Regions from separate parts of the Homo sapiens genome. Here region 2 is linked to region 1. The links come from fine-mapping of genetic effects on gene expression. Tissue or cell type: whole blood. Region 1 holds a variant in brackets; the other region holds the start of a gene. All regions are shown on one strand. Distances are from middle to middle.

Region 1 (8,104 bases):
ACTCAAACTAGACAGTCTGGCTCTAGTCAACATCCTTAACCCCTCATTAGCTTCGTGATAATAAAACCCAGCAGTGCTCAGCAGCCTAACTAAAAGAGCAGAGAAAACTCTTTCTTCATTAGAAGAGAACAAGACTATTCTTTATAAAATGTTTGTGAAAAGGAGTGATTGGTCTCTAGTTTGGGTGCCTAGCACAAGTCACCACCCCCTGGTTCACCAAGAAAACTGAGGGAATTAGGTATGAATTCTGCAGACCCTCCTGCCTGCAGACATCTTTGTCAGACCATTCTGCTGCCTTCCTCCTGTCTCAGAGAACTGGGTCTGCCCTTGCTTTAGCTCTTGATCTAGGTCCCTCCTGACTGTTTTGGGGGTTGCCTCGTTAGATGCACCCATCAGGGTCCTGGCAGAAGAGAGGTGGTGCACTCAAAACTTGGGCTGCCGAGCACCGTCAGAGTTTAAGCAGGGTTCGATGAAGAGCCCACCCACAGGGTGTAAGCAGAACAGGACAGGGTGTGTGGGCACAGGCAATAGCAAGGACCCACAAGGGGGGTAAACGGTGACCCTGGGGCCTGGCACAAGTGGGCTCTGTGGAGAGTGGGGGCCTGGGAGTGAGGTGGAGTAGAGTTGTATTTGACAGCAACAAGCCTTGCCGCTCTCTCTCCTGCCCATCCGTGGTGCAGAGGCTCCTGGAAGCTGGAGGGCAGTGGAGGCTGCCTGATGGAGTCTCCTGGAACACGGAGCAGTTGTGGAGAAGTGAGGGTCTTGGGTACACGGAGCATAGCCAGCGCATGGCTTCCCCGTCCTGTGTGCTCAGCCTCCCCTTCTCTGTTAGAATGCTGTCTTCTCTCCTCTGCTGACCCACATCTCCCCTTCCTTCCAGGGACAATTAATCTACAGAATAGTTTCTAATAATCGTCTCCACTTCCTTACTACCTATTAACTTTATTTATTTATTTATTTATTTATTTATTTATTTATTTATTGAGACGGAGTCTTGCTCTGTCGCTTAGGCTGGAGTGCCATGGCACGATCTCAGCTCACTGCAACCTCCGCCTCCCAGGATCAAGCAATTCTCCTGGGATTATGGCCAAACCCCATCTCTACTAAAAATACAAAAATTAGCTGAGTGTGGTGGCGGGTGCCTGTAATCCCAGCTACTCAGGAGAATGAGGCAGGGAGAATTAATTTAACCCAGGAGGCGGAGGTTGCAGTGAGCTGACATTGCACCACTGCACTCCAGCCTGGGCAATAGGGTGAGACTCTGTCTTCAAAAAAAAAAAAAATTGATGCAGAAGAACAATTTTTTTTTTTCTGGAGACGAAATCTCACTGTCGCCCAGGCTGGAGTGCAATGGTGCCATCTCGGCTCACTGCAACCTCCATCTCCCAGGTTCAAGTGATTCTCCTGCCTCAGCCTCCCGAGTAGCTGGGATTACAGGCATGCACCACCATGCCTGGCTAATTTTTGTTCTTTTAGTAGAGACGGGGTTTCACCATGTTGACCAGACTGGTCTCAAACTCCTGACCTCAGGTGATCCGCCTGCCTCAGCCTCCCAAAGTGCTGGGATTACAGGCGTGAGCCACTGTGCCTGGCCAACTTTTTAAAATCCTTATTGCGTTTTAGATTACAAGTACAACATTAAGTTATGTAAAATTTGAACACTACAGGCCGGTCGTGGTGGCTCATGCCCCTAGCACTTTGGGAGGCCTAGGCAGGCGGATCACCAGAGGTCAGGAGTTCGAGACCAGCCTGGCCAACATGGTGAAACCCCGTCTCTACTAAAAATATTAGCCAGGCATGGTGGCAGATGCCTGTAATCCCAGCTACTCGGGAGCTGAGGCAGGAGAATCGCTTGAATCCGGGAGGCGGAGGTTGCAGTGAGCCGAATTGTGCCACTGCACTCCACTCTGGGTGACAGAGCAAGACTCTGTCGCAAAAAAAAAAAAAAAAAAAAAGGCGCAGTGGTTCACACCTGTAATCCCAGCACTTTGGGAGGCCAAGGTGGGCGGATCACGAGGTCAGGAGATTGAGACCATCCTGGCTAACACGGTGAAACCCCGTCTCTACTAAAAATACAAAAAATTAGCTGGGCGTGGTGGCGGGTGCCTGTAGTCCCAGCTACTCGGGAGGCTGAGGCAGGAGAATGGCGTGAACCCGGGAGGTGGAGCTTGCAATGAGCCGAGATCGTGCCACTGCACTCCAGCCTGGGTGACAGAGTAAGACTCTGTCAAAAAAAAACAAAAACAAAAACAAAAAACTACAAAAGTATATAATATATAAAGGAGAGTCTTCCATTGAATTAACCCATACATACACTAGAAACCACCGCTGTCAAGAGTATGGTGCATGTTTGTCTAACTTGTAAAAAGTATATGTATGATCCGAATGACTGAAATAAAAAATAATGACACCATTAAATGCTGGTGAGGATAGAGAGAACTTTGATCACTCACATATTGCCAGTAGGAAAATAAAATGGCATGGCCACTCTAGCAAAGAATATGACTGCTTCTTACAATATTAAATATGCACCTGCCATATGATGCAGCAATTACACTCCTGGGCATCTACCCAGAGAAATGAAAGTTTTTATGTTCCTGGTCATAACTGTTCACAATAGCTTTATTCCTAATTGCCCCAAACTGGAAACAACTGAAATGTCCTTTAATGGTGGAAGGTTCAATAAACTATGGTACATTCATACCATGGAATACTACTCAGCAATAAAAGGGAAGGAATTATTGATACACATGACGATCTGGATGGATCTCCAGAGAATTTTGCTGAGTGAAAAAAGCCAATCTCAAGTTGCATACTGTGTGATTCGTTTTAGATAATATTCTTGAAACAATAAATGTATAGAGATAGAAAACAGATCAGGGGTCAGGTAGAAGGGAAGAGTGACTGTGGCCATAAAAAGGTAGCATAAGGGGTCTGTGTGGTGGAACTGTTCTTCATCTTGAGTTTGGTGGTGGTCACGTGAATCCACACATGTAAACTTGCTTAGAACCAAATACACACACATGAGTGGCTGGGTATGGTGGCTCATGCCTGTAATCCCAGCACTTTGGGAGGCTGAGGCAGGCATATCACTTGAGGTCAGAAGTTCAAGACCAGCCTGGCCAACATGGTGAAACCCCATCTCTACTAAAAATACTAAAATTAGCTGAGTGTGATGGCACATGCCTGTAATCCCAGCTACGCAGGAGACTGAGGCTGGAGAATCACTTGAACCCTGGAGGTGGAGGTTGCAGTGAGCCGAGATCGCGCCACTGCACTCCAGCATGGGCAGCAGAGTGAGACTCCATCTCAAAAAAAAAAAGAACTAAATACTAAAAAACTAAAAATTGATGACATCTGAGTAATGGCGAAGGGTTCTATCAATGTCAGTTTCCTGGCTGTGATATTGTACAATAGTTATATAAGATGTTACCATTGGGGGGAAATGGGTGAAGGGTACGCAGGATCTCTCTGCATATTTCTTTTTTCAATAAATTTTATTGAGATAAAATTCACGTAATATTTACCTTTTTAATGTGTAAAATTTAGTGGTTTTTAACATATTTACAAAGTTGTGCAACTTCAGCACTATCTAATTTTAGAACCTCTTCATCACCCCCAAAAGAAACCCTGTATCCATTATTAGTTACTCCCTGTTCCCCTCTCCCCCAGCTCCTGGCAGCCACTAATCTACTTTCTGTCTCTGGATTTGCCTACTCTAGATATTTCATATTAATGGAATCATACAATATGTGGCCTTGTGTCTGGCTTCTGTCACTTAGCACAAGGTTTTCAAAATCCATCTATTAATATTTTATAAAATGTGTCTGCACTTCATTTCTTTTTACAGCCAAATAATACTTCATTGTATGGGTCTACTTCTGCATTTTATTTATCATATTCATAAGTTGATGGACATTTGGGTTGTTTCTACTTCTTGGCTACTATGAATAATGCTGCTGTGGACATTCATGTACTAGTTTTTGTGTGAACATGTGTTTTTAATTCTCTTAGGTATTTATACCTAGGAGTGGAATTGCGGAGTCATATAGTAACTGTATGTTTAACTTTCTTTTTCTTTTTTTTTTTTTTTTGAGATGGAGTCTCACTCTGTCGCCCAGGCTGGAGTGCAGTGGCGTGATCTCGGCTCACTACAACCTCTGCCTCCCGGGTTCAAGCGATTCTCCTGCCTCAGCCTGAGGCCTGAGTAGCTGGGATTACAGGTGCACGCCACCACGCCCAGCTAATTTTTGTATTTTTAGTAGAGACGGGGTTTCACCGTGTTGGTCAGGCTGGTCTCGAACTCCTGACGTCGTGATCCACCTGCCTTGGCCTCCCAAAGTGCTGGGATTACAGGCGTGAGCCATCGTGCCCGGCCCTCTGTGTTTAACTTTCTAAGGAATCACCAAGCTTTTTTCAAAGGGGTGGCACTGTTTTGCATTTCCATAAGCAATGTCTGAGGGGTCTGATTTCTCCACATCCTTACCAACATTTGTTATTGTCTGGTTTTTTTTTTTTTTTAATTACAGCCATCCTAGTAAGTGTGAAATTGTAAGACATTGTGATTCTATATTATCTCCCTTTTTTTTTTTTTTTTTTTT[G/TG]AGATAGGGTCTTGCTCTGTCACCCAAACTGGAGTGCAGTGGTGTGATCACAGCCCACTGAAGCCTCAACCTCCCAGGCTCAAGTGATCTTCCTATCTCAGCCTCCCAAGTAGCTAGGGCTACAGGCATGTACCACCATGCTTGGCTAATTATTTTCTTTTTTATAGAGACAGGATTGTACTGTCTCTTATAATTGCATGTAAATTGGCCTGGCACAGTGGCTCACACCTCTATTCCCAGCACTTTGGGAGGCCAAGGTGGGTGGATCACTTGAGGTCAGGAGTTCGAGACCAGCCTGGCCAACATGGTGAAACCTGTCTCTACTAAAAATACAAAAATTAGCTGGGCTCAGTGGCACATGCCTGTAATCCTAGCTATTTGGGAGGCTGAGGCAGGAGAATCACTTGAACCCGAGAGGCGGAGGTTGCAGTGAGCCGAGATCGTGCCACTGCACTCCAGCCTGGGCAACAACAGTGAAACTCCGTCTCAAAAAAATTGAGCCACCACACCCAGATAAATTTTGTATTTTTAGTAGACACGGGGTTTCACCATGTTGGCCAGACTAGTCTTGAACTCCTGACTTTGTGATCCACCCGCCTCCGTCTCCCAAAGTGCTGGGATTACAGGCATGAGCCACTGCACCCGGCCTACCTGGTGTTTGTTAAATGAACACTTGGGTGAACTGAAAACACCCAGTGATGCTCCAGAAAGGAGCACAAGTGCAGTAGGAAGGGGAGGAGTTTTTCCTATTGGCAAGAGGCCTCATGGAGACTACATCATGGTAGAATTGGTAGAATTGGAACTGCTCTGTGAGCAGCAGAAAGAAGGAAAGTGAGAAAGGAAGAGGGAAAAACCTTGGGGCTATTCCCTGGGAGTCTTAGAGCCAGCAGGAGATTCTTCTTTCACTGCTGCCCACAGGCAAAGAGGGAAGTAAAAAGGTGAAGGAAGATACAGAGAGCTCCTCTGTCTCTGCTGTGCCTCCTTTGCTGAATTCAGCACCTACATGCTAAATGCAAAAGCCCTTTATTTACTCAAAAGAAGTTTGGACTCAATGGTCCCAAATGCTTGGCACCTCTTTCCTCCTCAGGTAGGATGAGAATCCCTCTGAACAAAGCTGGATAATGGCTTTACTATGTCCATGGAAATTTTCCCCCTGGGAATAATGCCTTTCTCAATTATATGGGCATTTTCAGTGTACACCTCTTTGGAAAAGGTCAAGAACAAGCCATATAAATACAATCTTTTCTAATTATACATTTATATTTGGGTAAAAGTTCTTTCATAGTAGGGATCAAAGAGAATATAGAACTTAAAGACAGAGAGAACTCTCCAGAAGAAAGTCTGAACTTACCTAACAAAAAGTTAGATGAACAGCATTGGTTGTTTTTTTTCCTTTTTTTGCTTATATATATTATATGCCTTACAATGAATATGTCTTACTTTCCTAATAAGAGAAAAAAGCAATACGTTTATTTAAACCCTAAGAATTGCTGCCGGGCGTGGTGGTTCACACCTGTAATCCCAACACTTCGGGAGGCCGAGGTGGATCGTTTGAGGCCAGGAGTTCATAACCAGCCTGGGGAACATAGTGAGACCCCGCATCTACAAAAAAAAAAACAAAGAAAGAAAAGAAAAAAACCTATAAAAATCCGGGTGTGGTGGCACACACCTGTGGTGCCAGCTACTCGGGAAGCTGTGGTTGGACGATCACTTGAGCCAGGGTCGAGGCTGCAGTGAGCTATGATCATGCCAGTGCACTCCAGCCTGGGCAACAGACAGAGACCCTGTCTTAAAAAAATAAAATAAATAAAATAAAATAAGATAAAAAAGAATTGCTCATTAGCGGACATGGAGTAAAGGTTATCAGAAGAAAAAGCAGAAGGGCTGAGGCCATCTTGCTCAGATTGGAGGCTTATAGGATAAGGGAGCATATTTGTTTCCTATGCTGCATAACGTATTACGACAAATGCACTAGTTTAAAACAACTTCCCTTTATTATCCCACACCCTGTGAGTCAGGGGCCTGGGCATAGTGCAGGCCGCAAGGCTGTCATCATGGTGTCGGCCGTGGCTCAGCTCCATCTGGAGGCCTGACTAGTGACAGATCTGCTGCCAAACTCATTCGGGTTGTTGGCAGAATTTGGTTCCTTGCTGCTGTAAGACCAAGGGCCTGGATTTTTGCTGACTGTTAGCTGCCCTTAGCTCTATGAGGCTGCTCACAGTTCCTGGCCATGTGGACCTCTTGATAGGTCCTCTTACAAAATAGCAGCTTGCTTCCTCAAAGCCACTAAGGGAGGAACAGAGCTAGTGGGGTAGAATTGTATATAATGTAATCTAATCACAGACTAACAGCCCATCACCTTTGCCATATTCTGTTGGTTAGAAGTAGTCTTAGATTGGGAGGCTGAGGCAAAAGGATTGCTTGAGCCCAGGAGTTAGAGGCTGTAGTGGGCTATAATTGCATCTGTGAACAGCAACTGCACTCTAGCCAAGGCAACACAGTGAGACCCCATCTCTTTAAAAAAAAAAAAAAAAAAAAAAAAAAAAAAAGAAAGAAAAAAACAAGAAAAAAAAAGAAGCAGTCACTGGACCCACCCACACTCAAAGGGAGGGAATTATATGATTATACAAAGGTGTGAGTTACTAGGAGGTGGAGATCATGGGGACCACTTTAGAGTCTGTTCCTTAAAGGGAGCTCAGAAATTCTTTTGGGATCCATATCCCCTTGTCATTCAGCATTCCAGTACATTCCAGTGGCTGTCCTACTGCAAGCACCTGGGATTCTTCACCTGACAGTTTTCCTTCCACCTGAGACACAGACATGCTGAAGGGTTACTGACCCTACGAGCAGGCCTCAGCCAATGATGGATGGAAACCGGAGGCTCCCCATCTTCCTCACCTCTTGGGTAGGAAAGCTCAGAGGCATGTTCTGCACTGTCTCCCAGGGTCCCCAGTAGGACTGAACCCCAGCTGCAGTTACACAGAAGCAACTTGCTTAATAATGTTCCTTTTCTTGGCTTCCTTCCCTTTCCTGCCTTACTTCCCCACTCTAGTCTTCCCGCAATCACCTCTTAAACAAACTAGTTGAATCTAGAAACAGAAAGTAGAGTGATTGCTAGGGGGTAGGGGAAGGAGGGAATGGGGAGTTATTTGGTTTAAGGTATACGGTTCAGTTTTACAGGATGAAAAGTGTTATAGAGATGGATGATGGTGATGACTGCACAACATTGTGAATGTGTTTAATATCACTGAATTGGACACTAACACTTATTAAGATGGGGCCGGGCACGACAGCTCACGCCTGTAATCCCAGCACTTTGAGAGGCCTAGGCGGGCAGATCATCAAGTCAGGAGTTCGAGACCAGCCTGACCAACATGGTGAAACCCCGTCTGTACTAAAAATACAAAAATTAGCGGGGTGTGGTGGCACATGCCTGTAATCTCAGCTACTCAGGAGGCTGAGGCAGGAGAATCGCTTGAACACGGGAGGCAGAGGTTTCAGTG
Region 2 (8,104 bases), 24 kb before region 1:
AATCAGAAGTTCAGTGGACTTCTGATAACGTCTAATTTCACGGAGCGCCACAGTACCAGGCCTTTAAAAAATTAATAAAGAAACTGTTACCAAAAACATAACTAGCACAAAAAGGTAAGTGGGCAGCTTCAAAGAAATGCAGTAATCTTTCAAAAAATAAGCCACCCAACAATTCTTCAGCTTCAGTATCAAATTTCACTGATCAACTTAAGATGTGAACATTCAAATCTAGTAACAATACCTTTAAAGCAAAAAGCATGAAATTAAAATGCATTCTTAGCAAGAAATTCATCAAAGCCCTATTTATTTTCATTTTAAAAAGTTATTCATGTATATAAACCTTGGGAAGGTATTAGCTGTCAGGCTAATGAAGAAGTTGGCTCCCCTCAATTTAGCACCACTCTCCTTCCCTACACCCTCTATTATCTTAAGAGCCCTTAAAGATGACCAACACAACCCAATGAACTTCATTTAAAAATCTGCTTGTGGCATTCAAGTTCTATTTCCCAGAATACCTCTACCCTGACTACAGTTCACCCCTCATCAACTATTAAATTTGAATACACCCGATTGTGCAGTGTTCCTTCCACGTGGAAAAGTTTTTTTTACTAAGTAATTGTCAGCAAGAAATTTACCTCTCATTCTGACTTATTTCTTCCACTGTATGAGCTTTTATTTTAGGTTAATCGTAATATTTGCGGAGGCTAAGTCTAGGCAACTTCTGCCCTCTAATGGCAGATGCCCTTAACAACACAGTGGCTCAGGTAGTTCACAATCAAAAGAGCTAATACAGAAGGAAATAAGCTAATCAAGTAAATGAGGGGGTAGGAACTTTATAAAACACCCAATCTCGATTATATTATTATTTTGCCAAAAACTAGGAAAGATAACCTCAAAAGTGTATTCAAGAAAGCAACACTTAACTATTTTTAAAGAATTACTAATAGTTAACTAAAATGTCAATATATCCCATTAACATTATCAGTGATATACGAGGTCTCCTTAGACCTCCAGGTAAGATTATGGCTTCAAAGTTAAACGTTTTCAATAAAACCTAATACTTAACTTTATATATAAATGATCATACAGTACATTTATTTAAGCAGTAGTTAAGTGTTCAAATGAAAAAAAAAAGTTTCTCTAAAGCAAAAAGTTTTCCTGTTATCCATCTTTTTGTTAAATTATGTGGATACATACAAGAGAGACTTTGTCCCATTTTTTTCCTGTTTTTTAATACCTGTAACGATGAGGTTTCTTCACCCCTCCAGTAGAGGGCGCACTCTTGCGAGCGGCTTTTGTAGCCAGTTGCTTCCTGGGTGCTTTACCACCGGTCGATTTGCGGGCAGTCTGCTTTGTACGAGCCATGGTACAGAGACCTCCTTACTTACCTACCAGCATTGAAAAATCAAAAATCACCATATGCAACTACCAAACATACAACTTTTCCTGCCACGATCACCCCCTCCCCAAATCTGGAAATTATGATCAGTATAAAAAATAATGTTCGTATTGTTATATAATTTGAAAGGGTGAAGATTACGTCTACCCAAAATCTCTTCTTGAAACAAACTAGAGTACTAGAAAATTGTTAGCAGTATCAATCACCTCTCAAAATGCCAATTCTGAGCGACAAACGGCAAAACAAAAATACCTCGAACGGCCTTTGATCCAATTTATTTAATTAAAGCAGTAATTAGAAATGTCTGTAAACATTCCATCCACAAACAAGTCAAAAGAAAAAAGGCACAAACCACTGGAAGGTCGAGTCAAATTACAGCAAAAAAAAGGTCTTACTCCCCCCCACTTTGGCTGCCCCCCCTTCGTCTGACTGTTGATGGATTGCTGTAAATATCTGAAAATATTCTTGGTTTTGCATCTTTACAGTTATGTTGACAAAAAGGCGTCTCGAAAAAACAAGAGAGGAACAACAGCTACCACCAGCGAGCATTCTACAAAGCCCCGTCCTCGCGTCCAGTCCTCACAGGCTTCGCAGTGAAATAAAAAGTGCCCCGCACCCAGGCTTTAATTAACGCACGACATCCGCCGACCGGTCCACCCCAAGCACCACATAAACTTTTGGTTTTGCCTCCTTCGGGTCCCTCGGCACAGGGTCCCCCAACCTGCCCGCCTCGCTCCCAGCGCCTCGAGCAGGAACCAACTCGGCTCCCCGACCAGAACAAAATGGAAACAATCGCAAAACGTATCCGATTCCGTTCCAAAGAGACAAAACACCAAATCGCTCGAAAATACCCCTATCCCCTGCCACGTGCCGCCCTCCAAAATGCAAAAGTTTTTTTTGCATTTCAAATGCATCAAGTTTCCGCCTCTCCAAAAAAGGGAAAAAAACGTCCCTCTTTTAAAAATTCTTGCTTTTTTGAAATGGGGAAGAGAGAAACGGGGGAAAAAATATGGTCGGTGACCAGAGAAGAGAGACAAGATGGTGAAGCTTAGCAACAACTGTGGGGAGGCAGCAAAAAGCGAGTTACCCCAGGGTGCGAAGCGGCGGCGATTTCCACCCCTTTCCCGCTCGAAAACTGGGGGCTGGGGCCCGGGGGCGGTAGTTAAGAGGCCCGCGCGGGTCATGGTGAAGGTTTGGGGTCCGGGGAAGGGGCGGCGGGCGGGATTTCACCGAAGAAAGAGGAGCCAGGGGCGCGGGGAGGAGGAGGGAGAGCAGGCTCGGCGCCGCGGCGGTTGCTGCTGTTGGGCTGAGGCGGCGAGAGACGGGGGAGCCGCCGCCGCCAGAGGGAACAGGGAAACTCGCTCCTCACCTCCATTTCTGGGCCAAAAAGTTTGTGGGCTAAGCCGGAGGGGCTATGGGTCCCCTCCCGGCACCGCCAGGGCCCGGCTCGGGGCTGACGGCAAGCGGGGCTCGGTTCCGGGGAAGCGGGCAGACGGGGAAACTTACCCCCCTTCTCCTTCGGCTGGAGCTCGGCGAGCGAGAGGCGGCGCTGGCGTTGGAGAGCGACGGCGGCGCGGCGGCGGCTGCGAACACAATTGAAAGATGGCTGACACCGAGGCTATCCCCCAACACACGCCGCCCCGCCCCCGCGCCGCGCGCCAGCCAATCACACACAATGGAGGGAAGGCTCGGCCCCGCCCCCATAGCTCCTCTCGCGCCCCGCCCCCGCCCTTCCCCCCGCGCGCCCGTTCGCTGGCGCGCGCTCGCCCCTCCCCCGCGCGCCGCCCGCTCCCTCCTCCAGGCCGCCTCGCGCCGTGTGTGTACAAACACAAAAGACACGCTGAGGGGCCGCCGGCTCCCGCCGAGACTGCCGCCCGCACCCGGCCAGCCCCCGCCCCCGGCCCTGCACTCCCATCCCGCTCCGTGTGCGCACGGCGTCGAACCCCCGAAGCCCGGGTTTGGGGCGCCCGGAGGGAAGTGGGGGGAGGGGAAGGCGGGCGGAGGCGCGGCGGGTGAACGCCCGGCCTGCGGGCGTCTCGGGCCGCGGCGGGGAGGGGAGGGAGGGGCTGCCCCCGCGCGGGCCCCGGCGCGCGCCCCCGAGGAGACCCGGGCGGCAGTGGGGGAGGAGGACGCGGTCGGCCGGGTCGCCGCGCCCCATTGGAAAACGCTCCCCAGCAGGAAGCTGGCAAATAGGAATCCAGCGTCCCGCGCCCGCTGTCGGACCTGGCCGCTGCGGCAGCGGGAGGGGCGGACCGACGGCCTCCTTCCCGCCTGCGCGCTCGGCCAAGTGCGGCCGGGTCCTGCGGGACCGGCCCGAGTCCGCCGTAGACAACTTGATCCGCTAAGACTCCTGGGCCGGCCGCCTGCGTGCAGGGCAGCCCCTCGCCGGTGTTGGCCTCCGGGATCAGGGGACGGGGCTCGCTCTCCTCCCGGGCCCGGGCCCCCGACGCAAGATGGCTGTGTCGCGTCGGCCTCTAAACAATGTGTGGAGCGCGCAGCTCCTGCACCAGGGCCTGGTGGCTTGTCCTGCCCGCCCGTGGGGGCCGTGTGATCTGTTTTCGGTAGGATTGCTTTGGAAAGGAATTGCCGAATATAGATAGTCAAATGTCCGCAGCTTCTGCATAGTTTAGAAGAGGCTGAAAACGGCAGAAAGAAGGCAAACGTGGTTTGGGAATTAGTACATATACCTGTTTTCCAATTCTCAGTAGCATAGGAAACGGACTTTTCATGGCCCAAGTTATCCTCACGACTTGTCAGTTGATTGGCTTTGGAACCTCTGAACCGTCCCTAGATGGTATTGACGCTTCACAACTGTGTGTAAAGGTTTTCAATGGAAGGGTCATGCAAATATCCCGTAGGGTAGTGAAGGAGGAAAATTTCATAAATGAAGGGCAGTAATTATTTGTAATCTGAAGATCTCACAAAGCGGCTTAGTGATAAACATTATCCCGAAACAGATACATGGAAATCAGATACGAGGGAAGAAATGGATTTGTCCAAGGTCACTTAAGTGAGGAAGAGACCTAGGAGAAACAAACAGACAAAAATCCAGGCCTCCCGTTTCATTATTATTTCATGAATGTTAAGTGTCCATGGTTGCTGTGCAGAACACATGCAATCTCTAATCCTATCCTAAAAGCACATATGCAATCAGCTTGGACCGAGCTGCCAGCAAAGAATTTCCTATAATTCAAGCCAAGATGAGTTATTTTGCTTGTTTTTTGTTTTGTTTTCAGGAAACCGAAATATTTATTGTTGGATTTATCCAGGAAGGCTGTTCTGCATTAGTTAAATGCATCATATCTTCAAGAAATGTTAAATGACATGGGTAATGTTTTCTTTGTATGCTGGATTTTTCAATAGCTTCTACTTCTTGGCTTTAAAAAATATTTCTAACCAAGGGTCAGACCATTTTAGGTAGAGTAATTATGATCTTAGATGATTTGAACTAACTCAGCTGTCTGTCCATTTGTGAAATGGGAATAATAATATTTATCTCTATGAAGTTAGGCCACAAATTCTTTCTAGTAGGTTCAAGTATTTAAGCACCTGGAGAGGTGACTGGTTACCCTCCTAGTGGCTTCAGGAAGTTTTCTCACTGAATGAATATTTATTGAGTGCCAACTCTGCTCAGCACAATTCAGGGGTGCTGGGAATGCAGCAGTGAATAACACAAGCAGTGTTCCTGCCCTCATGGGGCTTATGATCTCTGGAAGCACTGCTTTGCACAGGGAAGTAGCACCAGGAGGGGGTAAAGAAAGAGGGACTTTGGAGCCCCAAGATTGGCAAAAACTATAGCTAATGAGAGAGGTGAACTGTAGAGTCTAGATAATGGGGAAGGAGAGGTGCCAGAGCAAGAAGGGATTCTCACAGGGCCCTACGGGTCAGTCCTGAATTGGCTTTACTAGAACTCAGGCCCAGCACAATGGCTCACATCTGTAATCCCAGCGCTTTGGGAGGCCGAGGTGGGTGGATCACTTGAGATCAGGAGTTTGAGACCAACCTGGCCAACCTGGAGAAACCCTGTCTCTACTAAAAATAAAAATTAGCCGTCATGGTGGCACACGTCTGTAATCCTAGCTACTTGGGAGGCTGAAGTGGGAGGATTGCTTGAATTTGGGAGGTGGAGGTTGCAGTGAGCCGAAATTTTGCCACTGCACTTCAGCCTGGGCAACAGTAAGACTCCATCTCAGAAAAAAAAAAAAATAGAATTCTTGGGCTAATAATGGCCTCAACATTTGCAGTTAAAAAAGAAATGGGGAGGATGGGAGCAAAAGGTTTTAAGTTAAAATATTTTCCTTAGAATAGAGTACTTATGGCCATGAATTTAGATTTGTTTATAAGTAGAAAAGTAGAATGGAAAGGATTTTAAAAGCAACGCTATTCATATCTGCTTGGCTCCTGTCAATCAACTGCAAAGATTACTGCCTCATGGAGATGCTTCTGGTCACTGTAATGCTATCTCCATGCACACTTTATCACATTGATTTCACATCACCTTTTTATCACATTGATTTACATCTATCATTTGTTCACTTGCTTATTGTCCAGTTCCTCCCCAAAGAATATAACCTCTGAGGTAATGGTGGTCTTGTCTGTTTTTTCTCCTGTCCCTGATCATTTGCTGTACCTTTTTATTAGGTGATCTCATCCAGTTACATGGAAATTATCATGTAGAAAAATAGAATAAAACAATGAACCCCTTGTACCCATCTTTAGAAATTACTGACTCATGACCAATATTGGGTTCCCTCTATACTCTACTCACTTCTACCTCACCGATTTGAATTATTTTGAAGCAAATCCCAGCCTGCATTATTTCATCTGTAGATAATTTAGTATGTATCATAGGAGTCAAATAGATGATTGATGTGCCCCTTAAATCTCTTATAATCTACAGATTCTTTCTCTGTATTTGTACTTTGTTGAAAAATATGGATTGGCCAGGCGTGGTGGCTCACACTTGTAATCCCAGCACTTTGGGAGGCTGAGGTGGGCTGATCACTTGAGGTCAGGAGTTGGAGACCACCTTGGCCAACATGGCGAAACCCTATCTCTACTAAAAATACAAAAATTAGCCAGGCGTGGTGGCTCACGCCTGTAGTCCCAGCTACTTGGGAGGCTGAGGTAGGAGAATTGCTTGAACCCCAGGAGGCGGAGGTTGCAGTGAGCAGAGACTGCGCCACTGCACTCCAGTCTGGGCGACAGAGCAAGACTCCGTCTCAAACAAAAGAAAAATATGGATCATTTATCCTGAGGCTTTGGATCCACACTGTCTAAAACTGTCCTTTCCCTCAGTCTTGTCCAGTAAATAGCACTACCATTTACTCAACTCAAACCAAAAAGTACAGACAGCCTCCTTGAGCCTCTTTTTCTTTCACCCCGATAGCCAGTCTATTGGTCTTGCTCTGAAATGCTTATCAGAATGACCTACTCCTCTTCTCATCTCTTACCTGCCCTTCAACAGTAACTTTCTGTATGACCTTTCTCTTTCCACTCCTGCACCTCTGTATTTTATTTGCTACCAAGCAGACACAGATTAGATTATAGAATATAAATCAGATTAGGTTGCATTCTTGCTTAATCCATTCAGTGGCCTCCCACTGCTCTTGGTTAAATTCCACATGTGTGGGCCCTGGCATTACCCCTCTTTCCCCTCCGCACTGTGCTGCAGACTAGCCACCCCTGGTCCATCAAGTCCTCCTCTGCCTTAGGATCATTGCATCTGTTCTTTCTGAAGCTTGAATTCTCTTCCACCAGCTTTTGATAGGACTGTCTCACCATCTTCTAAGGCAAACTTTCTAACCTTTCCCATGTCATTTTCTTCTTAGAAAATGATCATATTTGGCCAGGTGCAGTGGCTCACACCTCTAATCCCTGCACTTTGGGAGGCCGAGGTTGGTGAATCACCTGAGGTCAGGAGTTCGAGACCAACCTGGCCAATATAATGAAACCCCGTCTCTACTAAAAATATAAAAAATTAGCCAGGCATGGTCGTGGGCACTTGTAATCCCAGCTACTTGGGAGGCCTGAGGCAGGAGAATCACTTGAACCCGGGAGGTGGAGGTTGCAGTGAGCTGAGATCACACCACTGCACTCCAGCCTGGGCAACAAGAGCGAAACTCCATGTCAAAAAAAAAAAGAAGAAAATGATCATATTTGTAAGTTGCACCGAGGATTAGTGGAGGGTATTTGGAGCCACTCATATGGAACTTGATTTTTAAATTTGGGCTTGGCATGGTAGCTCAAGCCTGTAATCCCAGCACTTTTTTATTTGTTTGTTTGTTTATTTTTTTTTTTTTTGAGACAAGAGTTTTGCTCTTGTTGCCCAGGCTGGAGTGCAGTGGCTCGATCTCGGCTCACTGCAACCTCTACCTCCCGAGTTCAAGCGATTCTCCTGCCTCAGCCTCCTGAGCAGCTGGGATTACAGACATGCACCACCAGTTCTGGCTAATTTTGTGTTATTAGTAGAGACCGGGTTTCTCCATGTTGGTCAGGCTGGCCTGGAACTCAACCTCAGATGATCCGCCTGCCTCAGCCTCCCAAAGTGCTGGGATTACAGGTGTGGGCCACTGCGCCTGTAATCCCAGCACTTTTGGGACGCCAAAACAGGCAGATCACCTGAGGTCAGGAGAAGACCAGCCTGGCCAACATGGAGAAACCCCGTCTCTACAAAAATAAGCTGGGCATGATGGCGGTTGCCTG

Evidence for each region. PIP is the estimated chance that this variant, and not a neighbour inherited with it, causes the effect.
Region 2: it holds the start of H3-3A, and the variant in region 1 is fine-mapped to the expression of H3-3A in whole blood (INTERVAL, PIP 0.99).

The regions. Positions count from the first base shown.
Region 1 is chr1:226,033,291-226,041,394 of GRCh38, reverse strand. No RefSeq gene overlaps it. Among named protein-coding and RNA genes, the nearest start is that of H3-3A-DT, 25 kb to the left of the region's middle. The variant G/TG (reference allele first, on the strand shown) is at 4,602.
Region 2 is chr1:226,057,613-226,065,716 of GRCh38, reverse strand. H3-3A (H3.3 histone A) reads right to left here and starts at 3,001. Exons shown (of 4, transcript NM_002107.7): 1 at 2,906-3,001; 2 at 1,238-1,388; 3 at 1-61. The coding sequence starts at 1,365. H3-3A-DT (H3-3A divergent transcript) reads left to right here and starts at 3,222. Exons shown (of 2, transcript NR_185887.1): 1 at 3,222-4,727. RefSeq lists an enhancer at 1,330-1,399 and silencers at 2,593-2,662, 3,281-3,446, 3,033-3,882.